Homo sapiens: one gene and its partners. The protein of the gene in region 1 interacts with the protein of each later gene in a biochemical or structural test. Each region holds a gene or a part of one and is shown in the gene's direction. Other genes may lie near its edges. The genes, in order: ERBB2, FER, CRK, TNS3, PLCG2, SHC2 and TXK.

Region 1 (4,212 bases):
TCTGGTGCCCAGGGCGCCACTCAGCCCTCATCCTGCCCTTTGCCCAACAGTGACGCGCACTGTCTGTGCCGGTGGCTGTGCCCGCTGCAAGGGGCCACTGCCCACTGACTGCTGCCATGAGCAGTGTGCTGCCGGCTGCACGGGCCCCAAGCACTCTGACTGCCTGGTATGTGCCTCTGCTTTGTGCCCAATGTGCTCTACCCCCCAGGATGCAAGGGGTGGGCACCCTGCCTGGTACTGCCCTATTGCCCCTGGCACACCAGGGCAAAACAGCACAGTGAAAGCCAGCCACCTGTCCCCCCAGGCCTGCCTCCACTTCAACCACAGTGGCATCTGTGAGCTGCACTGCCCAGCCCTGGTCACCTACAACACAGACACGTTTGAGTCCATGCCCAATCCCGAGGGCCGGTATACATTCGGCGCCAGCTGTGTGACTGCCTGTCCCTGTGAGTGCCAGGGAGAAACACAGTTTTCTCATTTTGGTGGGGAGGTTTGTTTCTGTAAATGGGAGCATATGGGGAGCACTGTCTGCATCTTGCTTTGAGAGCTGGTCATGACAGTTCCTGCCGAGCTGCCTTGTTCTTTCAACAGCTGTGGAGCAGGTGGCAGTAAGGAGAGGCAGCTAAGAGCCCAGACTTGGGAGCCAGACTGCCTGGGTTTGAAACCCAGCTCTATCAATTAGTAGGCACGTGACCCTCTTGCTGTGCCTCAGTTTCCTCATCAGTAAAATGGGGGCAAGAATAGTCCCAACTGCATAAGATGGTTATAACATTTGAAAGAGTTAATATTTGTAAAGCTCTTAGAACGGTGCCTGGTATGTACTAAGTGCTCCTAAATGTTAGCTTTTATTCTATAGCCTGGTGAGGTCAGTTTTACCTTTCGTTTTGTTTTTGAGACCGAATTTAGTTAGCTCTATCGCAGTGGCGCGATCTCGGCTCACTGCAACCTCCGCCTCCCAGGTTCGTGCTATTCTCGTGTCTCAGCCTCCTGAGTAGCTGGGATTACAGGCGCCCACCACCATGCCTCGCTAAATTTTGTATTTTTAGTAGAGACAGGGTTTCACCACGTTGGCCAGACTGGTCTCGAACTCCTGACTTCAGGCGATCCACCTGCCTCGGCCTCTGAAAGTGCTGGGATTACAGGCGTGAGCCACTGCACCCGGACTTTTTTTTTTTTGGCAGAGTCTCGCTCCATTGCCCAGGCTGGAGTGCAGTGGTGCAATTTTGGCTCACTGCAACCTCTGCCTTCCGCATTCAAGCAATTCTTGTGCCTCAGACTCTTGAGTAGGTGGAACTACAGGCATGCACCACCATGGCTGGGTAATTTTTGTATTTTTAGTAGAGACGGAGTTTCACTATGTTGGCCAAGCTGGTCTCGAACTCCTGACCTCAAGTGATCCACCCGCCTTGGTCTCCCAAAGTGCTGGGATTACAGGCATGAGCCATCGTGCCTGGCCTAGCTCAGTTTTATTTAACAGATCACCTATTTACTGATGGGCGTTTATGGACTGGGCTCAGACCTGGGGAACCTCTTTCCTCCTCTCACAGGAACAGGAGTGGGCCTTCAGATCCTGGCTGACTGTGTTAGGGAGAGGACAAAATGTAGAGCCAGACCATTTGGGTTCAAATCCTCGCTCCTCCACTCACTAGCACAATGACCTTGAATAATTTACAGAACTCTCTGCTTTGGTCTCCCTTTTTGCAAAATGGGAATCTCACAGTGCTGATCCCGTCTGGTTGTTGTGAGGGGTAAATGGATGTCAGGTGCTGATGCGTGGTAGGGCATTTAAGTATTGGTTGATATTATTCTTCTTGTGCCTGGGCACGGTAATGCTGCTCATGGTGGTGCACGAAGGGCCAGGGTATGTGGCTACATGTTCCTGATCTCCTTAGACAACTACCTTTCTACGGACGTGGGATCCTGCACCCTCGTCTGCCCCCTGCACAACCAAGAGGTGACAGCAGAGGATGGAACACAGCGGTGTGAGAAGTGCAGCAAGCCCTGTGCCCGAGGTACCCACTCACTGCCCCCGAGGCCAGCTGCAGTTCCTGTCCCTCTGCGCATGCAGCCTGGCCCAGCCCACCCTGTCCTATCCTTCCTCAGACCCTCTTGGGACCTAGTCTCTGCCTTCTACTCTCTACCCCTGGCCCCCCTCAGCCCTACAAGTGTCCCTATATCCCCTGTCAGTGTGGGGAGGGGCCCGGACCCTGATGCTCATGTGGCTGTTGACCTGTCCCGGTATGAAGGCTGAGACGGCCCCTTCCCCACCCACCCCCACCTCCTCAGTGTGCTATGGTCTGGGCATGGAGCACTTGCGAGAGGTGAGGGCAGTTACCAGTGCCAATATCCAGGAGTTTGCTGGCTGCAAGAAGATCTTTGGGAGCCTGGCATTTCTGCCGGAGAGCTTTGATGGGTAAGAGTGGGCACGATGACCTGAGACAGTGTCAGGGCAGACAGAGTCCTGAGGATCCAGATGTGGCAGCATCTCTTGGGGATGGCAGGAGACAGAAGTGGGGGGATCAAGAATGCAAAGAAAGCAGATGGGAGACCAGAGGAGCAGGGCCTTTGGTGGGTGGGGGTGATTATTTTTGTAAATGACATGCTATCCGTGAACAAGGACTTGTATGGAGGTCAGACCATCTAGATAAAGTAAAATTCCCTTTGAGTTCATAGCAGCTTTATTCAAAATATCCCCAAATTGGAAATAACTCAAATGTGCATCACTAGGTGAAGGAATAAACAAGTGGCAGTGTATCCATTTGGTGAAGTTCTACTTAGCAACCAAAGGAAATGAACTACCGATACAACATAAATGAATCTCAGAAACATTACATTGAGCAAAAGAAGCCAGAGACAAGATTCCATACTGTCTGATCCCCTTTATGTGAGGCTCTGAACCGAAAAAACCACTCTGTGGTGGGAGAGATCAGAACGGTGGTTGCCCCAGGGTGGGGGGCTTCAAAAGGGAGGCACACAAGGACATTTCTGGGGTAATAGAAATGCTCTGTATAGTGATTGGGGTAGTGGATACATGAGCGAATCCATTTGTCAAAACTCATCAAACTGTGTGATAAGAGTCTGTGCATTTTATTTATTTCATTTTATTTTTTGAGATAGAGTCTCACTCTGTCAGCAGGCTGGAGTGCAGTGGTACGATCTTGGCTCACTGCAACCTCTGCCTCCTGGATTCAAGCAATTCTCCTGCCTCAGTCTCCTGAGTAGCTGGGACTACAGGTGTGTGCCACCATGCCCAGCTAATTTTTGTATTTTTAATAGAGATGGGGTTTCACCATGTTGGCAAGGATGGTCTCGATCTCTTGACGTCGTGATCCGCCCACCTCAGCCTCCCAAAGTGCTGGGATTACAGGCATGAGCCACCACACCCGGTGCATTTTATTGTATATAAGTTATACTTCAATAAGAAATGAATTGGGGCCAGGCACGGTGGCTCACGCCTGTAATCCCAGCACTTTGGGAGGCCGAGGCAGGCAGATCACTTGAGGTCAGGAGTTCAAGACCAGCCTGGCCAACATGGTGAAACCCCATCTCTACTAAAAAATATAAAAAATTAGCCAGGCTTCCTGGCATGCGCCTATCATCCCAGCTACTTGGGAGGCTGAGGCAGGAGAATTGCATGAACTCGGGAGGTGGAGGTTGTAGTGAGCTGAGATTTCGCTATTGCACTCCAGCCTGGGCGACAGAGTGAGACCCTGTCTCAAAAAGAAAAAAAAAAAAAAGGGTCAGGCGCCGTGGTGCACACCTGTAATCCCAGCACTTTGGGAGGCTGAAGCAGGAAGATTGCTTGAGCCCAGGAATTCAAGAACAGCGTGGGCAACATAGTGAGATCCCATCTCTACAAAAAAACACAAAAAATTAGCCGGGCATGGTGGTACGCACCTGTAGTCTCAGCTACTAGGGAGACTGAGGTGGGAGAATCACCTGAGCCTGGGAGGTGGAGGTTGCAGTGGGTTGAAATCATGTCACTGTACTCCAGCCTGGGTGACAGAATGAGACCCTGTCTCAAAAAAAAAAAAAAAAAAAAAATTCCCTTTCACACTTCCTTTACCTCCACTCCCCTTTCCAGAGGGGGCCATGGTTAACAGTGTGTGTGTTCACCTAGACCGTTTATGCATCTGTAGACACACACACAGTGAAGTGTGGTTTTCGTCGTTTTGGTGGGGAGGTTGGTTTCTGTAAATGGGAACATATAGG
Region 2 (4,212 bases), on another chromosome or scaffold:
AATCACAGTATTTTGGGAGGCTGAAACGAGAGGATCACTTGAGCCTAGAAGTTTGAGAGCAGCCTGGGTAACATAACGAGACGGCACTCTACAAAAAAGTTAAAAAATTAGCCCGATATGATGGCATGTGCTTGTACTACTACTAAGGTGGCTAAGGCAGGAGGATTCCTTGAGCCCAGGAGTTCAATACTGCATTGAGCTATGATTGCAGCACTGTGCTTCGGCCTGGGCAACAGAGTGAGTCCCTGTCTCAAAAAAAAAAAAAAAAAAAAAAAATAGTGTGTAAGTATTGTTAGTAACAAGTACTGAAGACATACCTTACAATTCTGTAAGGGACCCAAGTTATTTCCACATTTTCCTGAAGTGAATGCCCCTTTAGTTTTTCTTATCATTCTTATAATGCTACATAAGAAAATATTATTACACTAATTTTATGTCATTAATAGAGACCTATATTTAAAAGTTAGAATAACTTAATGAACATGTAAAAATATTTAGGTAACAGTACCTCAGTCTGTATTGTGACTGGAATAACACTAATTGTTGTACAAAAATTGAAATTAGTTTTCTAGTGTAAATCATTTTGCTTGCAAAAAGGCTATTTCTATATTGGGACTCATGGTTTTAAGAGAAGTGGAAACAGTACTAGAATTTTTATTTTCTAGGCACTTAGAATGTAAAAATGCTCTTTACATTGGCTCAGTCAGAAAAGTATCTTTGCATTACCATGAATAGAGCTTAATTTTAAATCACTCATCCTATGTGGAAGTACCACGTATAATATACAGTTCCAAGTGAAGACTTAGTAGACCTTTGATATTTGCAAGTGGTATTTCCTGAAACCTTTGTGAATCTAGGATATAACCACCTCCATAAAATGCAGTCAAATTTAATGGAAAAGTTTAAGTGATCCCTTCAGACCCGTACAATCCGGTAAGGAGGACTCGAGTCATTAAAGCTATTAATTTTTTTGCTTCTGAAATGAAGACTAGACAACTTTGCATTACATTATTTGTATACAGGCAAGGTTCTTATTCTTGCCCCTTGTATCCTATAGTTTGCAGAATAAAAGAGCATTTCTGGCTTAATCACAAAGCTTGCTGCGTTGTCACAAGGTTTAGTCCTTGGTCGCTGTAATGCTTTTCTGTATGCTTCTGTTTCTTGGATGTTTTCTCCTTGGAGTTGAACACTTCTGTAGTATGTGTCCTTTCTCTGGATGTCTTCAGCTTGGGAGACTTTCCCAAGCTTCCGTGGATTGATGGGGCTCCCTTGTTAATTTCACATTCTACAAAGAAAAGTGCATTTGACTCTTCTAGCAGTGTTCAGGGTTTTTTTGTTGTTGTTTTTTGAGACAGAATTCCACTCTTGTTGCCCAGGCTGAAGTGCAATGGCACAATCTCGGCTCACCGCAACCTCCACCTCCCGGGTTCAAGCAATTCTCCTGCCTCAGCCTCCCGAGTAGCTGGGATTACAGGCATGCACCACCACGCCCGGCTAATTTTTTTGTATTTAGTAGAGATGGGGTTTCACCATGTTAGTCAGGCTTGTCACAAACTCCTGACCTCAGGTGATCCACCCGCCTTGGCCTCCCAAAGTGCTGGGATTACAGGCATGAGCCACAGTGGCTGGCTGCAGTGTTCAGTTTTGATAACAAATGGGTCAGTAGCCACCCTAGCAGCTATACCACATCTTGTTTTATGAAAATATACAGTATCAGCCGGGCACTGTGGGTCACACCTGTAATCCCAGCACTTTGGGAGGCCGAGGTGGGTGGATCACCTGAGGTCAGGAGTTTGAGACCAGCCTGGCCAACATGGTGAAACCCTGTCTTTACTAAAAAAATACAAAAATTAGCTGGGTGTGATGGCACGCACCTGTAATCCCAGCTACTTGGGAGACTGAGGCAGGAGAATTGCTTGAACACGGGAGGTGGAGGTTGCGGTGAGCCGAGACCATGCCATTGCACTCCAGCCTGGGTGACAAGAGCGAGAAACTCCATCTCAAAAAAAAAAAAAAAAATAATAATAATAAATACAATAAAAAGAAAATATACAGTGTCTTGACTTTCTCTTGAATTATTTTTCTTTTAGAATTACATGCTTTCTATGTACGTTCTTATATAGGTTAACCATTACTTAAATTTTCACTAAGGTTTTAGAAACTTTGCTTTACTAGGAGCAAAGGAAACATTTTCAGGTATCACCTTTTTTCTTTGTTTCAGTATAGAAGTGTGTGATGGACTTTGTAATATGGAAAATCCAGTCACTATCGCATTTCCTGACCATTCTGAATCTACTCCAAATTTATGTATTTGGCTAAGTACCATTACTTTGTGATGCCTGTTTACTTTTAATATATTTAATAAATTTGCTATAGGAGAGTAATTAAGGGGAACTAAACAATGTAGTTGTTTCAGATAATTATTAATGATAACATATAATGGTAATATGTAATTAATTATAGGTCAATATAACTTATTAATATACTATATAATTAATGATAGATCAGTATTTCAATTATTTACAAGCATTTATGTTGGGGATGATGTATGAGAATCTTTATGTAGATTTATATACAATAGAAAATTTTACAAAGGAAGAAGCCAATTTCTTTCTCCTACACACACACACATTTTTTGTTTTGTTTTTGTATAGTTCTTTTTTCTCCCCTCCTCAACATTTTAACCTCCCAGGTAGAGACAGTTTCTGTCAATATAAGTCTTAAGTCTTTTAGTAAATTACATGGCTTCAGATATAATGGTGGGGGCACTAACATTTCTTTAGTGCCTGCTAAAAGTGTGATGCACTTTTGTACATTTCTTTTGAATTTATGAATTTGATGGCTTGCATGTTCTTTTTGTGATCTGGAACCAATTTTAGGTCATATCATTTATCCAAGGAGACCCAGTTATAAAATGATACTGGGATTTGAACTTGGGTGTTTCATACTCTAAACCTGAAATAAATGTAAATGGTAAAAGTCTGTAGTAAACTATTAATGGTCCTGGATTTAATAGAAGTTTCAGCTATTTGGGAGCAACTCTAAAGGTCTATGTTGAAATATTTGCAGTTTTGCTGAGATTACTTCCTCTCATTAGAAGCAAGACCCTAAGATATTCATGCTCCTGGCTAACAGTCTTGTGTCTATATCTTGCTTTGGCTTTGTTCTGTTTGAGATTGTCCTAAACTATAACTTCTGTGAAGTTATAACATGTTTCTTTGTAAAAAAATTTCCTGAAAAAGAAAGCCAGCTGCTAGAAGTGGAGAGAGAATAAAGAGGCCTGAGAAGGTGGTGGATCTTAGCTAGAAAACAGACATTTTTGAATAAATTTAACAATGGAATGTTGAATTCAGTGAGTCTTTGATCTTGACGCACATCAATCCTCCATGCCTTAGAGGTAAAAAAAAGTTAATTTGTGAAACATTTTCATTGAGTGTTCCAGCTCTGTCAAAAATTCTCATGGTCTTTAGACAGACTTCTTGAAAATGTCAGGAATCTTACGTTCATAAATCCTGTCCTCCATCCCTTCTGTCGCACCCTCAACAATAATATTTGAAAGGAATTTGTTTATTAACAGCTACTACTTTCTAGAAGTTAATATAGTTCTGACAAATATCTTAAAATGTTAACATAAACAACAGTGTCCTAACTTCTGGGATAATAGGGGTTTGCTATGGTGACTATTTCACAATTAATCATAACAAATATAGGAGCTAGACCTTACCTTGGTGGTTGCCTGTTTTAAGTTTCTGATTTCTTTTCTGTATTTTGGAGCCTGGTTTACCCTGTGTCTGGAACTGGCATTCTAAGATCTAAATGTCTTAGCTTGGAGATACTTGCTATTATATACACTAATATCATGGATTTTGAAAGAGGATGAAGATGGTGAAGAGATAGACATGGCCTTCAATCTACATTATAAAAATAATGTAGAAATGTTCTATGCTAGACAAGAGGCAAGCTGTTGCAGGAATGGGACAGAAAGCAGGAAGGGATGTGATTCTTCCATTTTCGGTCTTTCTACAGATGTTACTAGAATACACACCCCATGTGAGGATTTAGCTTATGGGTACAGATATTATAAAGCATAGAGAGGTTTCGGACTGTTTTCCTGAGAGGGAGTGTGGTGTGGGGAAAAGAGCAAACCTACCTAGAGTTGAATCTGTGCTCCTAGTAATAGCTGTATGAATTTAGACAAATAATTTAATTCTT
Region 3 (4,212 bases), about 38 Mb from region 1:
TTTATGTTTTGAGACAGAGTCTTGCTCTGTTGCCCAGGCTGGAGTGCAGTGGGACGATCTCAGCTCACTGCAACCTCCCCCTCCCGGGTCAAGCCATTCTCCTGCCTCAGCCTCTTGAGTAGGTAGCTGGGATTACAGGCATGCGCCACCACTCCCAGCTAATTTTTTTGTATTTTTAGTAGAGATGGGGGTTTCACCATGTTGGCCAGGCTGGTCTCGATCTCCTGACCTCAAGTAATCCACCTGCCTTGACCTCCCAAAGTGTTAGGATTACAGGCGTGAGCCACCGTGCGCAGCTGGGTATTATTTTTAAAGGCATGGGTACAGAATGGGCCAGTGATTCTCAGCCTTTTCCGTTGAACCTGTTTTTAACTTGTCTTGGGTCCTCAGCTTGCATAGGCTTCCTGTGGTGCCATAGCTTGGGAGTTCCCTGGGGCCATAAGGAAGGGCTTGGCCAAGTCTACTGGTCACATTCTGTCAGGTTGGGCTTCAAGATGGACCTCCTTGGAATGCTTGCAAGAAACTAGTTTTTTTTCTCTTGAACAGCTAAACCTTTCAGGTTGACACAGCTGAAGGAGTGTGAGTTAGGAGAGTCGTTATAAGCTTGAGCTGTGGATCCTGGGTTGGGCCTTATTTACCTACCACTTACTGCTTGTGTAACTTTGGGCAAATTGTTTAACTTTTCCCTGCTTCAGTTTCCTCATCTGTGAAGGAGGGAAATAGTAATACTGATCTCATAGGGTTGTTGGAATGATACTCCATATTCAGTACTGGCATACTAAGTACTCCATAAGCATTTCATGTATACGAATCTTAATAACATAACTGAGGTGTGGGGGCTTTTGAAGCAAAATGGAAAACTTCTTATCTTTGAGAGGCTGTGGAATTCATGCTGTGGATGGTAGGAACTGGTGAAACAGTTTGTCTTGGGGAGTAGGTGCCTGGGTGGAGTGCATCCGTAAGTGTGAAAGGACCTCGGGTCCAGCACTTGGAAATAAGATGGTGCCTCCTGTTACCTGCTCATCCGACCTGTTGCGCTAGTGGGTGGAGGGGGGCATAAAACGTGCTTCATTTTGAAGGCGTGGGACAGAAGCTAGGGTGGTAATAGTTTGTGATACTCCCTCGAGGTAGTGAAGAGCTACATGCCAGGCTGGCAGCTGGGCCAAGCCACTTCTGGAGGTAGCGTGAGACTGCTGATGGCCCTGTTGCTCAGGCTGGTGTGCAGTGGCTCCGTCATAGCTCACTACAGCCTCACTGTATGACCCAGGCTGGGCTTGCACTCCTGGCCTCAACAGATGTCTCCCTAAAGATTGGTTAATCAGTTTTTAAAAATAGAGAAAAAAATAAAGAGATCCTCCTGCCTCAGCCTCCCAAAGTGCTGAGATTACAGGTGTGAGCCACCGCACCTGCCTGACCACAGAACTTTTGAGAAGCATCTTGAGATCCTGTGGAATTTTCTCTGGGAAACGGTCCAGTGGGCTCTGGATTTGAGGATGAATTGAAAATTGCTGAAGGAATTTGGAGAATTGGTTGCTTTTTATTGAGCACCTATAATGTACGAGCCACTTTTTCTTTTTTTTTTTTTTTTTTTTTTGAGATGGAGTCTTGCTCTCACCCAGGCTGGAGTGCAATGGCATATTCTCGGCTCACTGCAAGCTCTGCCTCCCAGGTTCAGGCAGTTCTCCTGCCTCAGCCTCCCCAGCAGCTGGGACTACAGGCGTGCACCACCATGCCCAGCTAATTTTTGCATTTTTAGTAGAGATGGGTTTCACCATGTTGATCAGGCTGGTCTTGAACTCCTGACCTCAGTGATTTGCCTGGCTCTGCCACCCAAAGTACTGGGATTACAGGCGTGAACCCCCACGCCCAGCCTCTAGCCACTTTAGGAACTTTATTTATTAGATAGGTATTTGACCCCATTTTGCAGAGTCGGGGGTGAGGCACACAGAAGTTAGGTAACTCAGACAGCTAGAAAATGAGAGCCACAATGCACCAAACCTGCAAAGGACCGTCCTCATACCCACCATCTTTAGAACATTCTATTTGCTTAGGAGACCATATATCTTCTCAGATGGAAACCAGTGGCCTTCTGTCGCCCAGGCTGGAGTGCAGTGGCGCGATCTCTGCTCACTGCAAGTTCCGCCTCCCGGGTTCAAGCGATTCTCCTGCCTCAGCCTCCCGAGCCAGTGGCCTTTTTAGCGTTTTGTATTGGTGGGTATTTATCTAAGCAACCCCTGTAAATACCACAGGCAGAGAAGGAAGGGAGGGAGCAAGAATTGAGGAAAAAAGGGAAAAGAGGGCCGGGTGTGGTGGCTCGCGCCTGTAATCCCAGCACTTTGGGAGGCTGAGGCTGGCTGATCACTTGAGGTCAGGAGTTCGAGACCAGCCTGGCCAACATGGCAAAACCCTGTCTTTCCTAAAAATACAAGAATTAGCCAGGTGTGGTGGTGGGCGCCTGTAATCCCAGCTACTCGAGAGGCTAAGGAAGGGAGAATTGCTTGAACCCAGGAGGCAGGAGGCAGAGGTTGCAGTGAGCTGAGATCGCACCACTGTACTCCAGCCTGGGCAACAGAGGGAGACTCCGTCTCAAAAAAAAAAAAAAAAAAAGGAAAAGAGAAAGTGCTGTGAGATCAAGGAGAGCCTGGCCCGCTCTTGTAGACCCGTCAGAAGTGATTGGGCCTATTTTAGCCCACAGAGCCCTCAGGTGTTCTTCATGAAACCTTCAGGGAGGGAGTGGCCTTGTAAAAATGGTCGTAACCTGAGGCTTGAAATGCTTGGAAGGCTTAGAAGTAACGGGCTGAGCAGGTACCGAGAAGCTGAAAGGATATCCTCTCCTTGCATTGATTTTGATTTCCGTTTGTGTGACTTCCTAACTCCACGTTCAGAATCCAGCACAGGGTGATGTAGAACAAGTCATTGAGGTTTTCCAAGTCCCAGATAGCTATGAGAATCCTGTCGTTGCTTCTGTTCTCTAGACTGGCTGACTGTGCCTCCTTCCTTTCCCGCCCTTCTATTTCCTGCCTTTGGCTGTTTGTGGTTGGAAGGAGAGGAAAGAGAGAAAAGGAGCCGGAACACACAGCCATGGTGAGGTTTGGGCTTATCTGGGACTTATGTGTGTTCTGTTCTCCTCCCTTCCTTCTGGAGTTTGGATCAATGAAGCTTGATGGCCCCCAGCAGTTCACAGAAACGGGCATTTCTCTGTGAAATTATTACAGTGTCAGAATAGAAAAATAATTTATAAGTAAAGTACATCAAAGGTTTTCCGTGGCGTTTTGCTTACGTTTCTGTGTCTATTGGGATTGCCAAACAAAAAGAAAGTCACGGCCGGGCGTGGTGGCTCACGCCTGTAATCCCAGCACTTTGGGAGGCCGAGGCGGGCGGATCACGAGGTCAGGAGATCGAGACCATCCTGGTTAACACGGTGAAACCCCGTCTCTACTAGAAATACAGAAAAAAAAACCCGGGCGTGGTGGCGGGCACCTGTAGTCCCAGCTGCTCGGGAGGCTGAGGCAGGAGAATGGCGTGAACCCAGGAAGCGGAGCTTGCAGTGAGCCGAGATGGCGCCACTGCAGTCCAGCCTAGGCGAAAGAGCGAGACTCCGCCTCAAAAAAAAAAAAAAAAAAAGTCATAGTGAGCCCAGTTCACGCTATTGTGGCATTTGACCAAGAAGAGAATTAAACCTGCTTCCTACCTTTGCGCCAGATGATCTGCCAAGTTTTCTCTCACTCATCTTTCAGAGCGACTTGGCTTAGTAGTCTCATTTGTTCTTTCCCCGCCAAAATGTATTTCGCTCGGCCTGCTATGGTAACAGTGGCTGGCAGGGGGTGGTTACCTTCCTTCTTCCAGTGGAGAGAGTACCTTGGAAGTGTTCACAGATGGTCGTAGTTGCTCATGGCGATTCTGTTGTATCTCAGGACACAGTGCGTTATTCCAACTGTCTTTAGCAGGAACATAGATCCAGGTGAAGGTGAAAGCCGGGTGGGAGGTTGTCTTCCTAAGACGTGCCGCTTTCTCCTTGTTCACCAGCCACACTGTGCTTGCTGTGTTATCTCCAACAATGCTGTGAACTTCTCTGAGCTTCTCCAGTCTAGGAAGGCATTGTGCTTAGCTTCTTTCCATCACTTCAGAGTTAGGCTTATTAAGATAATATCTGGCTGGGCGCGGTGGCTCATGCCTGTCATCCCAGTACTTTGGGAGGCCGAGGCAGGCAGA
Region 4 (4,212 bases), on another chromosome or scaffold:
TGGTAAACTCATTACTTTATTTTTTTATTTATTTTTTTGAGACAGAGTCTCACTCTGTCGCCCAAGCTGGAGTGCAATGGCGTGATCTCAGCTTACTGCAAGCTCCACCTCCCGGGTTCGCACCATTCTCCTGCCTCAACCCAGTAGCTGGGACTACAGGCGCCCGCCATCACGCCCGGCTAATTTTTTTGTATTTTTAGTAGAGATGGAGTTTCACCATGTTAGCCAAGAAGGTCTCGATCTCCTGACCTTGTGATCCGCCCCCCTCGGCTTCCCAAAGTGCTGGGATTACAGGCATGAGCCGTTGCTCCCAGCCAAACTCGTTACTTTGAGAACACTTTTTTTTTTTTTTTGAGATGGAGTCTTGCTCTGTCGCCCAGGCTGGAGTGCAGTGGCACAATCTTGGCTCACTGCAACCTCCGCCTCCTGGGTTCAAATGATTCTCTTGGCTCAGCCTCCCGAGTAGCTGGGACTACAGGCGTGCACCTCCATGCCTGGTTAATTTTTGTATTTTTAGTAGAGATGGGGTTTCACCATATTGGCCAAGGTGGTCTTGAACTCCCGACCTCACGATCTGCCCACCTTGGCCTCCCAAAGTGCTGGGATTACAGGCATGAGCCACCGCGCCCAGCCCAATAACACATTTTGATTTTGATTTTAGATACTCTTTAATGCGTTTTATTATAAAAGTTATTTAATTATCATTTTGAAGTCTAAGGACTTTCATATCTCAACAACAGACCAGTAAAATTCAGTGCATATTTGGGTATTGACAATACAAATTTAAAGTATTTATTAATCTATTCATATTTGACAGGCATCTGGGGCCATTGGTCCATTTTTTTCATAGCTTCAGAACTAAAAAGATGTCAGAAGATTAGGTATAAGCAAAACTGGTTACCAGTCTCCCCAGAGCTTTTTAAAATTGGGAAGTGACCTTCTTGTAGGAACCCTGCCACACATGAGCAACTGTCCATGAGCAGTGATGAATGGACACTGAAGGGTTAGCCGCAGCATTGGAAACAGGGCAGAGTGAGCCATGCCCTTCCTGGGAGCTCCGCTTCCTCTTCCAGGACGTGCCTCTTGTGCTAGGTAAGCACCAAGCTGGGAGATGGAGCAAGCCTTGAGACTTGCACTTCATTTAGTGTCAAAAGCCTGCACAGTGTAGAGGTGGTCTCTGAACAGCCTGCATGGCAGGCTTTTGGATCTCAGTCCAAGACTTTCTGACCTGATAGAAATCCCATTAAAAGATGCTTACTGGGCCGAGGCAGGCAGATCACCTGAGGTCAGGAGTTCAAGACCAGCCTGGCCAACATGGCAAAACCCTGTCTCTACAAAGTTACAAAAATTGGTCAGGCATGGTGGTGCATGCCTGTAATTCCAGCTTCTTGGGAGGCTGAGGCAGGAGAATCACTTGAACCCAGGAGGCAGAGATTGCAGTGAACTGAGACCGTGCACTGCACTCCAGCCTGGGTGACAGAGCAAGCACTCTGGCCCAAAAAAAAAAAAAAAAAAAAAAATTATTGCTTACTTCTGTAGCTCTCAGGCACTGCAGCTAAGCAAGGAAGGAATTGTTTCTTCCCTCACTAGCAGGTATAGAAAACACTGGAACTCTTTTGATTTTAAAATTTAAATTTCAGTATTGACATTTCTCAATAGGAAATGGCTACTTTGGCAAGCGGCAGAAAACAAAAATTACTAGATCCTAGCAGGGACACGCGTACAAGTGTGGTAGCAAAGCAGCTAGTTCCGAGTCCCTGGGACATCGTCAGAAGGTTGGGGATGCTGCTGGAGTGCCTGCACTTTGAAGGTGTCCTAGATCCCTCAATCCATATCCGTCTCCTCAGCCAGCCAAAGGAGACCAGGGCTGTTGAGCTGGAGCCCTCCTCTTTCAGCTTAGATCCATGTGTGAATAGGAAGGATTCTGGCACGTCCAAAAGGCTCATGACATGCCCAGAATGGTACCATCACCTAACCCTGCAAGGGGCATCATTTCCACATCTGTGTGCATGAGGTTCAGCCCCATAGATAGTGTGGCATTGCCTGACTGACTGGAGACTACCTTGAGTCTCGCTCACAAGGGGAAACCATAGACTGGAAGTTCTGAGAGCACTATGTCTACATGAGCCCCTTCTTGCTGGCCTGCCTTCCATCTCATCCCTGGACACAAACTGCTACACAACTTTCTTAATTCTGACTGTGGATGAAGGTTTGTCACAGAGACCTCAGCATCCTGAAGTTACCAGAATCTTTCACTATTTGCAGATTATGTCCTCATTATGAGAAAGACCACCACTTGTGGTAGAGAGTTGGGAATAGCATTGCCCTGTGCTCCTCCGGGGGACTTCTGTGCATCCTGCATTATTTATGAGATGAAAATTATATGTGAAGGCTAAGTATTTCCTGAGAAAGTCTTTCATACCAGCACCATAATAATAATAGTGGTGCTGCTGCTGATGGTGGTGATGATCACAGTGATGGTGATGGTGATGATGATGGTGATGGTGATGATGGTAATGACTGTGATGATATTGATGGTGGTGATGGATATGGTGGTGGTGTTGATTGTAATGATGGTGATGTTGATGGTGGTGATGATGTTGATGTTGATGGTGATGACCCTTATGATGGTGATGACTGATGATGATGATGGTGATGATGACAGTGATGATGGTGATGATGATGATGATGATGATGGTGATGACTGTGATATTGATGGTGGTGATGGTGGATGATGACGGTGATGGTGGTGATGATGTTGATGGTGATGGTGATGACCCTGATGATGGTGATGACTGTGATGATGTTGGTGATGGTGATGGTAAATGACTCTGATGATGGTGGTGATGTTGATGGTGGTGATGATGTTAATGGTGGTAATGGTGATGTTGATGGTGGTGATGGTGATGGTGATGACTGTGATGATGTTGATGGTGGTAATGGTGATGGTGATGATGACAGTGATGATGGTTATGACTGTGATGATGGTGATGATGCTGATGGTGGTGATGATGCTTTGGTGATAGTGATGATGACGGTGATGACTGTGATGATAGTGATGATGTTTATGGTGGTGTTAGTGATGGTGATGTTGATGATGTTGGTAATAGTAAGAACTGTTACTCTGAGTGCCTACACTGTTTTAGGTACCTTCATTTCACCAGGACACGTAACAGAGCTCTCGTCTCTCTGACTCTGCACCCCATGGCTATGTCCTAATTCCACTAAACTCACACTCTTACACCAGCCAGTAAACCTGTTGAGGGAAGTGCTCATTATTTTTTTTCCCTGGCATGCAGGAAGAGTTCGACATATGTTTGCAAATACAGGGGTCTGGGACAGGCGGAACTGCAAATGATCCTTTTGAGACCTGAACTACTCTGCTGAATGGGCACTGAGGGGAGATTTATCGCTGGACAGTGTAGAGTAGCCCTGCCCACCTACAAGATCAGAGAGAGGCCCTCCAGAGGTGGGGTATCACAAAGCTCTGGTGGCTGAGACCTGGGTGCTCTGTGTGCCAGTGAGCACAGTTTTGTATCCTTCTTGTAGAATGGGTGAGATTCAGGGAGTTGGTTTGGGGACATTTTACTCCCCACAAGTGCCTGCCAGCCATGAGGCCCTGCTCCCTCACTCTGGTCTGACTTCTGCTGCCACTGGTGTTTTGTGGAAGAGCCCCTGGGTGCTGCTGCCAGGCTCATTGTCCCCGCCCCACTCTGGGTCTCAGCCTGGTTTCAGCCTGCACGTGGTGGGTTTTTTGTATCATACCCTTTTAAGTGGGAGAATATTTCAACTGATGATATCCCAGTAACAAAAGAAATGACTCAACCTGTGAAATTCATGATTCCGTGGGTGGCAAAAAGCCAGTTCTGTGGTTTTTTTTCATACCTTGAGGGCTCTTTGCTTCATGTTGTCAAAATATTTTATTCATGTTACATCAACCTCCACCCTGTGATGACAGCAACCTGGCAGGCCCTGTTCTGCTTGCAGATAGTGCTGTGGCATTCCCACCAGGCATTTAATGTCCCTCCCAGACTCGGCATCTGCTCTGTTAGTGCTAACCCATGGCTGATAACCTGTGCATCCTAAAGAAAGTTCAGAGCAATGGAAACTGTAAGCTTTTAATAATTGACCATGGAGAGCCCGTTGATTTAAATTGTGTGCTAAACCCCAACCAAAGGAACCAAATGTGAAAGCTGGAAGAGCGCTTTAGGA
Region 5 (3,660 bases), on another chromosome or scaffold:
CCCATTAGCCTTTGGCCAGGTAGCCACCAGAACCTATTTATTGCACCTGGCATCTCCCCCAACCCCTCTCAGCTCTGTTAGGACTTCCACACAGCAGAGCTCAGGTGTTGCTGTCATTACCTCCTTTCAGCTCCTCACTTCATTCTACTTTAAAGCCACAGTGCTAAGGCCTGCATCCCCTTTCTGCCCAAATGGGTTTTTTGCTACCATATCAAAGAACCTGACATATGGCGGCATAGGAAGCAGAAGCTAAGCCTCTCTCCAGCTGCTGCTGTGTAAAATCCATGCGTGGCCAAAGAGAAGTCAGGGGATTATGACATAAATGGTGCTGGGAAGAACCCTCTGCCTAAAACTGTCTCCTTCTCCTGGTGCTACAACCGGAATCCACCATGAGAGAGTACTTTCTTCGGTTCTTTCCTCCTGTCCTTGACAGAGTAACACGTTAATCTGGTTCTTGGTGGTGTTAGGGACTGATTCTCTCAGGAAAGGCACACATGGTATGATGGCTCTTCCCAGAGTCTATGTGATGCTACATAACTTCAGTATCTAGCTGAGACATGCTTCCTACATGACTGTTAAAGCACAGCCAATCCAGGCCAAGAAGACTAGTAACAGGCACATTCTGAAAGATGGAAGCAGCACTGATAGATCAAAACCACCACTGCATATGTATTACACTGTTTTTGTTCACCATTTTCCTAAGTGTGTTATTTAGAATATTGGTTATTACAAGGAAAAATAAAGTGGGGAGGCTGGTTAGGCCTTGTGAGTTTGGGAAACTTAGGTTATAAAAACTAAATAAAGTTTTTCTACTGTGAGACTAGATGTGCAGGAGTGAAAGGTGTAGAGGGTCTTGTTTTCCAAATTCGATCTCAGAATCTTTTTGCCAGAAGTGTCTCATGGGACTTATCTATAGTGGAACACATTTGAAGACCTACTGCTCTATTAAGAAGGCAGCCGGACAACATGTTCTAATACTTCGTATGCTTTGTGACCTAGTTAAAATCTAAACTTAAGTCGCCATGGCCAGTGGCCTTTAGATTAAGCTAGCCTTACCCCTGGGAGTATACCAGAGCTTTCCAAGGAATACACAGACTCCAGTACTCTCAGGGGAGCAGTGTTCAGAGCCTCATCTTCCTGTTATATTCTTCTCTAAGATTCATCTGCCTGAGAAAATGCCCTTTTCTCACCTTACAAAAGAAAATATGGCTGTCTCCACCTCTAGTCTTACTGTAGAGCATGTCCCAAGGTGTAAAAATTCAAAATGTGGATATTTGGAAAGTGAAAGACTTATCAACAGGGCACAAATCTTTTTGCAAATGGATTTTCCAAGTTTTTCTGGTGGTTCCAAATTTTTTGCTTTCAACAAAGTGGGAGGAACAGCCTGTAGATTTCTGAGTCTCTTAGCATGTAACTACAAAGGGGTTGGAAGAATTCAGTGATTCTGCTATCATAAAGCTTCCGTTCCCATTGATGTATCTGTGTGAACAAGGATCAACATCTCCATAAATGAAATTGAAAACGGAAAATAGAATTGATGATGAACTTTGGCTCAATCTTAAGATGTTATCAATCTACATAGATGAAATAATTGTGGAGAAAAGCCCTCTTTATCTCATTAAGTGATACATTTCCAAAGAAGTTTTACTATGTTTAATAATTTAGTGAAATTTGGGCTATGTGTTTATTGATTCAGCTCAATCCAGAGGAAAATTTTAAAGGCTTACAGCCTTAGGATTATAGGATACTATATAATACTTTTGGTACAGAGATAGAATTAAATAACATAAAAATCAAAAATTTATTAGGCTAAAATTTTGAGGGAGAAGTGGTATGAAAATACAAATTCAAGGAGTAAAAGGAAAAGTGGGGCATTCCTTGCTACTAAAAATTGCCTTGTTCCAGGTAAGACTGATCATAAAAAAATGGCCCTGTTCATAAAATTTTTAAAAAGATCATAGTATCTATCAAATAACTTATATTAAGAACCTCCTGGGCTAAATTTAAAAAGTAATACAACAGTTTTATTTAAACATGTAGTGTCTACGGTATGCCAGCACTTTGCAGCTATTTATAATGAGAAATTTTAGATGTCAATATAGCAATGTGCAAGAAGATAGAGATTTTCAAAATTCACTTAAGAGTATCTGAGCATAAAATGTTAAGATTGCTGATCGGATGTGAGGGCGATCTGGCTGCGACATCTGTCACCCCATTGATCGCCAGGGTTGATTCGGCTGATCTGGCTGGCTAGGTGGGTGTCCCCTTCCTACCTCACCGCTCCATGTGCGTCCCTCCCGAAGCTGCGCGCTCCGTCGAAGAGGACGACCAACCCCGATAGAGGAGGACCGGTCTTCGGTCAAGGGTATACGAGTAGCTGCGCTCCCCTGCTGGAACCTCCAAACAAGCTCTCAAGATTGCTGATCTAGGGCCACTAAGTGATGAATTGTATTTGGAAGCAAAAAGGATGGCTAAAAAGGACCTCAACCCTTTTGACTTTAAAAGGAAAATAGCTTAACCTTCAACCTGTGTGACATTTAACTTTTTGAACCCAACCGTAAAAGCTATCTTCTAACCAACAAAAAGTTAATAATTAGATTTGGAATTATACAGAATTAGAAAATTGGCATTTAAAAATACTCAATAATTTGTCCCTGGTTTTTAATTTTCAAAATATTTTCTTTTTGAAGAGCCAGATTCCAGTGATCCTGCCTCTCAGAAATTTCCACATTTCTTATTTTTCATTAGGCCTTAAGAAGCTGCATTTGTAAACTTGTGTTTCATTATTAAAGCTTAATTTATTTTTTATATAAATAGTATGTGCTTTGTGTACATAGAGAATTAAGTGAATGAGTCACACAGATGTTGGCTGTTGTTAATGTGAAAATTAAACAGCTGTATCACATTTTGAAAAATAAAAGTTTCATCTGAATGAATATAGCAATCTGCCCAGAACTTTTTTTAAAAACTGCTATTCACCTTTTATATTCCCAAATAAAACACACACACACATACAATAATTTAGTCATGAGATAGGTAGAGTTACAGTTATTTTTTGAAATGTGTTTTACTATCCTATTTATCCCACGTTTCTTTGGGTTACAGGTTTATCTTCAGCAAAAACTCACTCTGTGTTGAAACTCAAGTTTGTACGATTAATACTTGAGTGCTCTTCAATTTATCAGTTTTGAAAGAATGTTTAGTGTTGGAAGGAGCGAGGACCTTATAGTAAGTCCCTGTATTTCTCAGCTGAGTGATAGGCTCCCTAGAACTGTCAATCACTGCGTTTCTTGCCAACAATCCCTGGTCCACAGGAAGCCATGTTGTATCTCATACCTCTGACCCCCAACCCCCAGCCCCCAGTGGTTGGATTAGTTACCCTGGTCCAAAGATTTAATAATAGCCTATGACAAACCTCTGCATTAGAAGATGAGCAAGGAATAGTAAAAAGCAAAGATGAAATTAGAACTGCCAAATGACCACTTTTTAAATGGATACAACCATAACTCTCATAAAGATATATAATGAACATATGTCAGAAATCTTATTAATTAACAAAGGAACCAGTGAGATGTTCCAGCTTGTTTAAAGGAGAATGCAGAGAACAATATATATACATACAGTATAGGTTATCCGCTATCCAGATTATCTGATTTTATA
Region 6 (4,212 bases), on another chromosome or scaffold:
CTCAGTGGGAGAATCCAGTGCTAGGGACAGGGACCATGGCTAATTCCTTTAGGTATGACCTGTCTACTACATGCCTAGAGTCCATTCATCTGTTCATCCATTCATCCATCTACTCATCCACCCACCCATCCATCCATCCATTCATCCACCCACCAATCCACCCATCTGTCCACCCATCCAACCATCCACCTGTCCATCCATCCACCCTCCATCCATCCACCCATCCACCCACCCATCCATCCATCCGTCCATCCACCCATCCACCTACACATCCATCCACCCATCCATCCATCTGTCCATCCATCCAACCATCCGTCCATCCATCCACCCTCCATCCACCCACCCATCCATTCACCCGTCCATCCATCCATCCATCCACCCACCCATCCATCCATCCACCCACCCATCCACCTACACATCCATCCACCCATCCATCCGTCCATCCATCCACCCATGCACTCATCCACCCACCCATCCATCCACCTATTCATCCACCCACCCATCCATCCATCCATCCACCCATCTGTCCACCCATCCAACCATCCGTCCATCCATCCACCCACCCATCCACTCACCCGTCCATCCATCCATTCATCCACCCACCCATCCATCCATCCATTCATCCACCCATCTGTCCACCCATCCAACCATCCATCTGTCCATCCATCCACCCACCCATCCACTCACCCGTCCATCCATCCATTCATCCACCCACCCGTCCATCCACCCATCCACCTACACATCCATCCACCCATCCATCCATCTGTCCATCCATCCACCCATCCACTCATCCACCCACCCATCCATCCATCCATTCATCCACCCATCTGTCCACCCATCCAACCATCCATCTGTCCATCCATCCACCCACCCATCCACTCACCCGTCCATCCATCCATTCATCCACCCACCCATCCATCCATCCGTCCATCCACCCATCCACCTACACATCCATCCACCCATCCATCCATCCACCCATCCACTCATCCACCCACCCATCCATGCACCTATTCATCCACCCACCCATCCATCCATCTGTCCACCCATCCAACTATCCATCTGTCCATCCATTCACCCATCCACTCATCTACCCACCCATCCACCCATGCACTCATCTACCCACCCATCCATCCATCCATTCATCCACCCACCCATCTACCCATCTGTCCACCCATCCAACCACCCATCTGTCCATCCATCCACCCTCCATCCATCCACCCACCCATCCACTCATCCACCCACCCGTCCATCCATCCATTCATCCACCCACCCACCCATTCATCCATCCATCCACCCACCCATGCATCCATCCATCCACCCATCCACCCACCCGTCCATCCATCCATTCACCCACCCATCCATCCACCCATCCACCCACCCGTCCATCCATCCATTCATCCACCCACCCATCCACTCATCTATCCACCCACCCATCCATCCGTCCACCCGTCCACCCATCCACCCACCCATCCACCCATCCACTCATCCACCCACCCATCCATCCACCCATCCATCCATCCATCCACCCATCCACTCATCCACCCACCCACCCACCCGTCCATCCACCCACCCATCCATCCAGCCATCCGTCCACCCGTCCACCCACCCATCCACCCATCCACTCATCCACCCACCCATCCATCCACCCATCCATCCATCCACCCATTCACTCATCCACCCACCCACCCACCCGTCCATCCACCCACCCATCCATCCAGCCATCCGTCCACCCACCCACCCATCCACCCACCCACCCATCCATCCACCCACCCATCCATCCATCCATCCGTCCATCCATCCATCCACCCATCCACCCACCCATCCACCCACCCATTCATCCATCCATCCATCCACCCGCCCATCCATCCATCTGTCCATCCATCCATCCACCCATCCACTCATCTACTCATCTACCCACCCACCCATCCATCCATCCTTCCACCCTCCATCCATCCACCCACCCATCCATTCATTGTCCATCTGCCTGTCCATCCATCTACCCATCCATCCATCATCCACTCACCCATCATCCATCCGTTCACCCACTCACCCACCCATCTATTCATCTTCCATCCATTCTTTCATTCATCCATCCACCTGCCATCTTTCTGTCAGTCCATCCACCCATCATGCATCCATTCAACAGGAGGTGAGGCTGCTTAGTCCATGCCCTGCTTAAGTGCTCCCTGGCTCCCCAGCTGGCCCAGGATGAGCCCCTGCCCGTCATCACAGCCCAGGTCCTGTGGCCTCTGCTTCCTGCCTGCATTCTCACATCTGTCTCTGCTCCTTGCTCTCCCTGCTCCAGGTACATGGAGCCGTGGAGAGGGGCAGAGCCTGGGCCGGCCCACACAGTGACCTGTACACACCTCAGAAGCCCTCAGGCTGATGTATCTGTGGGGTAAAGTCCTAAAAATGGAGCTGCAGGGTCAAAGTGTTTGCGTGTTGATCATTTAAAGAAACTGAGGTGGACTTCACATAACGTTATTCATCATTTTGCATGTTGCATTTTTCACAGTTCAGTAGCATTTCGTACATTCATAATATCGTGCCACCACCCCTTCTGTCTAATTCCAGAATTTCTCATGACCCCAGTAGGAAACCTGTTCGTGTCAGCCTTCATTCCCCGGCTCCTGGCACCCACACATGCTCTTGCTGCCTCTGTAGGACATTTCATAGAGATGACGTGGGCTGTGCCCCTTACCCTCCCTCCAGCAAGGGCCAACGTTGGAAGGACGCTGTGGCCTTCGCCTCCTGGCCCTGTTCCCCCACCCTTTACGGCACTGAAGCAGGTCAGGGACTCGGTGGGACGCCTCTGCCCCTCTCGTCCCTCAGTATTATCAGTCATTGAGATGGTGAATTCCCTTTTCATGGAAACAGCTGTCTGGGCCAGAAGCCCGCAAACTTCCTGTGGAGGGCGAGGCCAGCAGTGTGTGCATCTGTGGCTGCCCTGGACGTCTGCCCCACTGTTTGCCAGACCCTGAACTGGGCGCTGGAGATAGGGAAGTGCTCAGGATCGCACCATCCCCACGCTCCTCGGCTTCGGTGCTGGTGGAACAGAAAGAGACCGACGAGGGCAAGACGGTTAAATGAACAAGCAGCATAGAGCGTCTGGGGGAACCACCAGGCTCCTGAGAAACAGCAACACAGAAAAACATGCCTGGAGTCAGAGGGGGCGGCTCGCAGGACAGTGTCAAGGCTGGGCCTTGAGGTGGGGGAGGCACGACGGCCCCAGAGCCACCAGGGACAGAGGAAAGGGCTCGACCCCAGGGGTGGTGGAGGCGGCGAAGGGCTGCTGGGAAAAGGGACGTGGCTCCACTGCGGGGGTTCCGATGGCATCTGACACCTGTTCTCTCCCCTCAGTACATGGGCTGCATCGAGGTTCTCCGCTCTATGCGCTCCCTGGACTTTAACACGCGCACGCAGGTGACCAGGTGAGCCTCCAACCCTGCCCTGGCCGCGTAGGGCTGAGTGACGCACTGGAGGGCGGCAGCACTGGAGGGCGGCAGCGATGGGCTCTCCGACAGCCGCGCTGGGGTCCCAGGACGCAGCCTCGGTGCCCCCCACCTCCCTCCCACTTCACGCCACGTCTCCGCCCTGTCCCCACGCCAGGTGTCGGTCACCGTGCCCTGCAGACCTCGATCCTCTAAGATGGAAAGAACACGCCGGTCGCTCACAGGGTGCTGGGCAAGTCCCCGCACGGCGTGGGGTGCAGGGCCTGGCGGGTTCCCTCTGGGACCGGGGCCCAGTGGCGTCTCCGTGTCCCTGCTCTGTTTTCCACACGGTGACCTCAGGATGCTATGCGGTGTCTGGAAAGCAATCACAGGGGCTGTGGATATGGCCAGGGCTTAAGCAGGGAAGAGAGCGACACCCTTTTTTTCTGTGAAAACTGGTTGATTCCATTCGTATAGACTTAAAAAAACCATGTGAGACAGTTTACACGTGCGTATGTGAGATATAATGTACAGTTTGAGACTTTAGGCTCTTCACAGAGTCACACGATCACCACTGTCTAGTTCCGAACATTCTCATTACCCCATCAAAACACCCCGTCCCCATCACAGCCACTCCCCGTCCCCTCCCCAGCCCCGGCACCCACGCATCCCCTCCCTGTCTCTGTGGATCGGCCTGTCCTGGACATTTCATAGCAATGGGATCACACGCTGCGTGGCCTCGTGTGTCTGGCGTCTCTCACTGAGCATGGCGTTCCCGAGG
Region 7 (4,212 bases), on another chromosome or scaffold:
TCTTTATTACCTGTGGAGTCACCATGTCTCTTTGCACCCGCTGTTCTCTCTACCTGGGAACCTTCTCCCATTTTCTCCCTGTGGAATGCCTATTTGTTTACAGGTCTAGGTCAAATGTCAGGTCATCTGGGATCCTTTCCTGATCCTTTAGATTTCATTGTTCATTCCATTGCATTCCCACCGTGTGCGGCATTGTTCTCCACTTAATTTTTATTTCATGTATGTTGTTTATAGGTCTGTGCTCCAATACGTATTTTTTCCCTTTAAGGGCAAGAATCCTATCTTAGTTATCTATCTCCCCAAAACTACCGGTGTATCTTATACTTTGGTGGCAGTAAATGACTCTGTAAGAATTAAATCCAAGGCAGCATGTTAACAGAAAAAGCTAACATTTAACAGGAGCTTCCTGTATATCAGATACTATGCTAAAAGATTTATGTTTATTAACTCATACAGTTCTCAAAACCACCTACTTTTTTTTTTTATGATCCCCATTTTACAGATGAGGAAATTGAAGATTAGAGAGGTTACATTGCTTACCCAAGGCCACACTATGAAATGGTGGAGCTGGGATTCAAACTCTTGTTCCTAATCACTATACCATGTCTATTTATAACAAAAAGACACCATCAAATGAGGTAATGCATATAAAATGACAAACACTGAGCCAGATATGGAGTAAGTTTTCATTACAATGATTATAACTTTATGCCCTGAAGATGCACCAGACTCTACTGGGAATGTGACATGTTTTCTCAATTTTATTTTATAACAACTCTATGCTCTTAGCACCTCTAGTTCCTGGAGAAGGAAACTTAAGTTCTTAAAACCAGTAATTTGCCCAGGGAGATGGAGTTAGGAAGCCTTCTAAATGAAAATGGAGTTGGAAAGAGACCTGGATTTTTCTGCTATTTCTGTGAAAATCTAGTGGATGTATAGATAACTTTTGTACAAATAATTATTTGTAACATGATTGCTTTTCAATGTCAGACAAATGAGAACACAGATAAGCCTGAGCACAGATGAAGAGCTTCCAGAAAAATACACCCAGCGTCGCAGGCCGTGGCTCAGCCAATTGTCAAATAAGAAGCAAGTAAGTATCATTTTGACAGGCAAGAGGGGAATGGAGAAGGTTGTCTTTTTAGAGTCTTCATTCATGAGGTGCTGTTTGTTGCCCAGAATCTAGTATCCTGCTTGGCATAAAATAAGTGCTCAGTAATTTGTGAAGGAATGTTCTAGAAGAAAGTAAAAGGAAAAAGAAAAGACCAGTTAAAATAGGCTACTTATATTTAAAGGCAGAACTTGAAAATGGGCAATGAGTGGGAAAAAACATATTCTGGCTTCTGTCATTTTGAGGCTGAGATTAATTTTCACTTCAGTGAGAAACAGCATTCTTAGGAAGTATGGTAAACCCAAGCACAAACTGCCACCACATAAAAAGAAAAAGGCCATTTTTCTTCTTTTAAGGAGAAAAAAAATCCTTAAAACAAGGTAAAACTATTGAAGAGGAGTACATCATCTTTTGAAAATTTTGATATGAAAAAAAATCCAGTAAAATGCTGTCAAGAGAACTTGTGATCTCAAAAGTGTACAAAATGATGAGTGTATTGCTGGATCCTAAAGGAGTTTTATAGTTAGTCCTTTTCTACATTTATCTCATCCTGGCTTCTGCCTTGGTGTAGCTGGATAAGAAAAGTGAGGCAGAAGGCAAATATGCTTTGTCCCTATATTTTTTAGTACAAATTATTAAAATGATAGTAAAACAACTCACTTATTGGTTTTCACAGTCCAACACGGGCCGTGTGCAGCCGTCAAAACGAAAGCCACTGCCTCCCCTCCCACCCTCTGAGGTTGCTGAAGAGAAGATCCAAGTCAAGGCACTTTATGATTTTCTGCCCAGAGAACCCTGTAATTTAGCCTTAAGGAGAGCAGAAGAATACCTGATACTGGAGAAATACAATCCTCACTGGTGGAAGGCAAGAGACCGTTTGGGGTAAGACACTTACATGACTTAGTCAGTATCCAATTCTTCCAACACAAAGAAGACTACTTAGTGACTCAGGCTTATAACTCTTCCCTCTGCATGAAATGGAATCTGTCCCCTCTCCCCCAGGATGTGTGAGAGAATGAGAGAACAGTGATTTCAGGCAGAGTCTCAGAACCAGATACACCTGGCTTCACATCCTGATGCTGCCGCTTACTATTGTGTGTCCCCGGGCAAGTCACTTACCGTCTCTGAGTTTTTGTTTCTTTATTTGTACAATGGAAATAATAATTCTGACAATGTAGGTTCTTATTCTAATTTGTGCTTTCATTTGGGAATTTGTCAGTTTTTTCCTGTTAAGCTCTAAGGTAAGAACAGAAATAGTATTTTATTCACTTTTATGTTTCTAGAATGACTAGTTTTGAAAGCAAACATTGCAGTCGCTGCTGAATTAGATTAGAAAGAAAAAAGACCCTGGGATGCAGATAGGTTTCATTGTGCCAATTGCAACAGATGGTTAATGCCTGACTGGAGTCCTGAGTTGAGAAGAATTCTGAGGAATATCTGGACTTCCTGAGAGAGAAGGCTGGCATTGATTTCTGATATTTGCCAAGATTTGGAGATTTTAAGTATCTAAGTATTATAAGCATGTAAATTACATACCTCTCCAACTACATTTTCTCAATGATGTGGCTCTCTTAACAGTTCTCAACATGTGGTGGAGACTTTTCAGTGGAAAAAGAGGCATTAGTAGGTTCAGGACTGTGTAATTAGCCACACCTGCGGGTATACTATTGGCATGCCTCAGACTTAAAAATTGAATTTTTTATTTCACAGTAAGTGAATAGAGTTTTTAAAAATATATAATATGCAAACATTAATGTCAAAATTCTGCTTTGCCACTACCTCCAAACCCAAGTGTCTCCCCAAAAGTAAATACTATTATCCATTTTCAGATTATTTTCAGTATACTTACATGCACATATCAAAATATATGGTATTGTTTGTAGAATTCATTTACCTAAATCTTATCTTACTTTCTGCATGATTCTGCAACTTACTTTTATTTCTCAATAATATGTCTTGGAGATCTTTTTGTAATTTCAAATGTTGGTTAAGGTATAGGAAAAGTGAAACTTCTACCATGCTGATAGGTGTGTAAGTTGGTATATCCTCCTTTGAGGACAATTTGTTGCATATCCTGAAAGATGTACATATCCCGTGACTTAGCAATTCCCGTCTTTGCTATCTGTCTTTGAGAAATATTCTTCTGTACAAGAAGGCGTGTTCAAGGATTTCTTTACAGCGTTGCTTCTACTAGCAAAGTAGCTAAACTAGAATACCTATGCTATGGAATACTCCTCAGCAATTGAAAAGAATGAAGTCGATGTCTTTGTAATTGCTGTGTTTTTAACATAATCACTATGATATCAGATGATCATTTAAGTGCCCCTTTTTCTCTCTGAAAAGATTGTGGGGTCATAAAACCTCTTAAACTACTCACATTACAAGTTGGCATCTTAATACATTCCTTGTACAGAGATTTTTGTTGAGTTAGAAATAAAAAAACTTTTTTTTCTCCTTTTAACAATTTAATCAGTAAAATGAATTTGATTTCCCCCCTACATCCTTGAGGTTTTAAAAGGATTGTTGCCATGATAATGCCACAAACATGCCAAGCATTTTGATTTTTGCTTTTTCTTTTGTTGTAGGAATGAAGGCTTAATCCCAAGCAACTATGTGACTGAAAACAAAATAACTAATTTAGAAATATATGAGTAAGTCTTCTCCAAAATATAACCTATGAAAATCAGGGACATTTTGGCAGCTTGTAAGTATAGATACTGTTTTGGGTCTGTAGAAGGAAAAAAAAGTAACACATTTGACAGCGTTAATAATAAAGAGACGTTTGATCCTTATCATGGTTGATTCAGAAACTTCTTTTCCTTATACTTATTTTTGTTCTGTTTTGTATAGCCACTTTTTCTGTTTTAACAGTGACAGCCTGAACCCAAACACTCATCTGGCACTTATTTTACTATATATCTTAACTGGAAAATTTACTTTAAAAAATGACATTAAATTTTCAATGAGTGGTAAACTTAACCATATAGATAAAGTACTATATTTTGGCTTATGTTTTTATATGTTTTAGAAATAGCTGACGATAAGAACTAGGCTAATGCTGTAGTTTGGAAGAACTGTTTGGCATGTTCACTAGAGTTCCG

The links.
Region 2: the proteins of ERBB2 (region 1) and FER form a complex in vitro, tested with the Homo sapiens proteins (2 studies listed by BioGRID and IntAct, with this or other methods).
Region 3: the proteins of ERBB2 (region 1) and CRK form a complex in vitro, tested with the Homo sapiens proteins (2 studies listed by BioGRID and IntAct, with this or other methods).
Region 4: the proteins of ERBB2 (region 1) and TNS3 form a complex in vitro, tested with the Homo sapiens proteins (2 studies listed by BioGRID and IntAct, with this or other methods).
Region 5: the proteins of ERBB2 (region 1) and PLCG2 form a complex in vitro, tested with the Homo sapiens proteins (2 studies listed by BioGRID and IntAct, with this or other methods).
Region 6: the proteins of ERBB2 (region 1) and SHC2 form a complex in vitro, tested with the Homo sapiens proteins (2 studies listed by BioGRID and IntAct, with this or other methods).
Region 7: the proteins of ERBB2 (region 1) and TXK form a complex in vitro, tested with the Homo sapiens proteins (2 studies listed by BioGRID and IntAct, with this or other methods).

What each region holds. Positions count from the first base shown.
Region 1 is NC_000017.11:39,710,036-39,714,247, forward strand, and holds part of ERBB2 (receptor tyrosine-protein kinase erbB-2 isoform a precursor), read left to right. Parts: intron 1-50; coding exon 51-166; intron 167-304; coding exon 305-446; intron 447-1,892; coding exon 1,893-2,012; intron 2,013-2,286; coding exon 2,287-2,413; intron 2,414-3,117; coding exon of another isoform or gene 3,118-3,234; intron 3,235-4,212. UniProt on the Homo sapiens protein: Protein tyrosine kinase that is part of several cell surface receptor complexes, but that apparently needs a coreceptor for ligand binding. Essential component of a neuregulin-receptor complex, although neuregulins do not interact with it alone.
Region 2 is NC_000005.10:108,754,155-108,758,366, forward strand, and holds part of FER (tyrosine-protein kinase Fer), read left to right. Parts: intron 1-4,212. UniProt on the Homo sapiens protein: Tyrosine-protein kinase that acts downstream of cell surface receptors for growth factors and plays a role in the regulation of the actin cytoskeleton, microtubule assembly, lamellipodia formation, cell adhesion, cell migration and chemotaxis.
Region 3 is NC_000017.11:1,446,003-1,450,214, reverse strand, and holds part of CRK (adapter molecule crk), read left to right. Parts: intron 1-4,212. UniProt on the Homo sapiens protein: Involved in cell branching and adhesion mediated by BCAR1-CRK-RAPGEF1 signaling and activation of RAP1.
Region 4 is NC_000007.14:47,361,586-47,365,797, reverse strand, and holds part of TNS3 (tensin-3), read left to right. Parts: intron 1-4,212. UniProt on the Homo sapiens protein: May act as a protein phosphatase and/or a lipid phosphatase. Involved in the dissociation of the integrin-tensin-actin complex. EGF activates TNS4 and down-regulates TNS3 which results in capping the tail of ITGB1.
Region 5 is NC_000016.10:81,959,750-81,963,409, forward strand, and holds the end of PLCG2 (1-phosphatidylinositol 4,5-bisphosphate phosphodiesterase gamma-2), read left to right. Parts: 3' UTR 1-2,936; downstream 2,937-3,660. UniProt on the Homo sapiens protein: The production of the second messenger molecules diacylglycerol (DAG) and inositol 1,4,5-trisphosphate (IP3) is mediated by activated phosphatidylinositol-specific phospholipase C enzymes. It is a crucial enzyme in transmembrane signaling.
Region 6 is NC_000019.10:440,081-444,292, reverse strand, and holds part of SHC2 (SHC-transforming protein 2), read left to right. Parts: intron 1-2,664; exon of another isoform or gene 2,665-3,208; intron 3,209-3,360; coding exon 3,361-3,431; intron 3,432-4,212. UniProt on the Homo sapiens protein: Signaling adapter that couples activated growth factor receptors to signaling pathway in neurons. Involved in the signal transduction pathways of neurotrophin-activated Trk receptors in cortical neurons.
Region 7 is NC_000004.12:48,110,088-48,114,299, reverse strand, and holds part of TXK (tyrosine-protein kinase TXK), read left to right. Parts: exon of another isoform or gene 1-558; coding exon of another isoform or gene 559-638; intron 639-990; coding exon 991-1,093; intron 1,094-1,787; coding exon 1,788-1,993; intron 1,994-3,696; coding exon 3,697-3,762; intron 3,763-3,770; exon of another isoform or gene 3,771-4,212. UniProt on the Homo sapiens protein: Non-receptor tyrosine kinase that plays a redundant role with ITK in regulation of the adaptive immune response. Regulates the development, function and differentiation of conventional T-cells and nonconventional NKT-cells.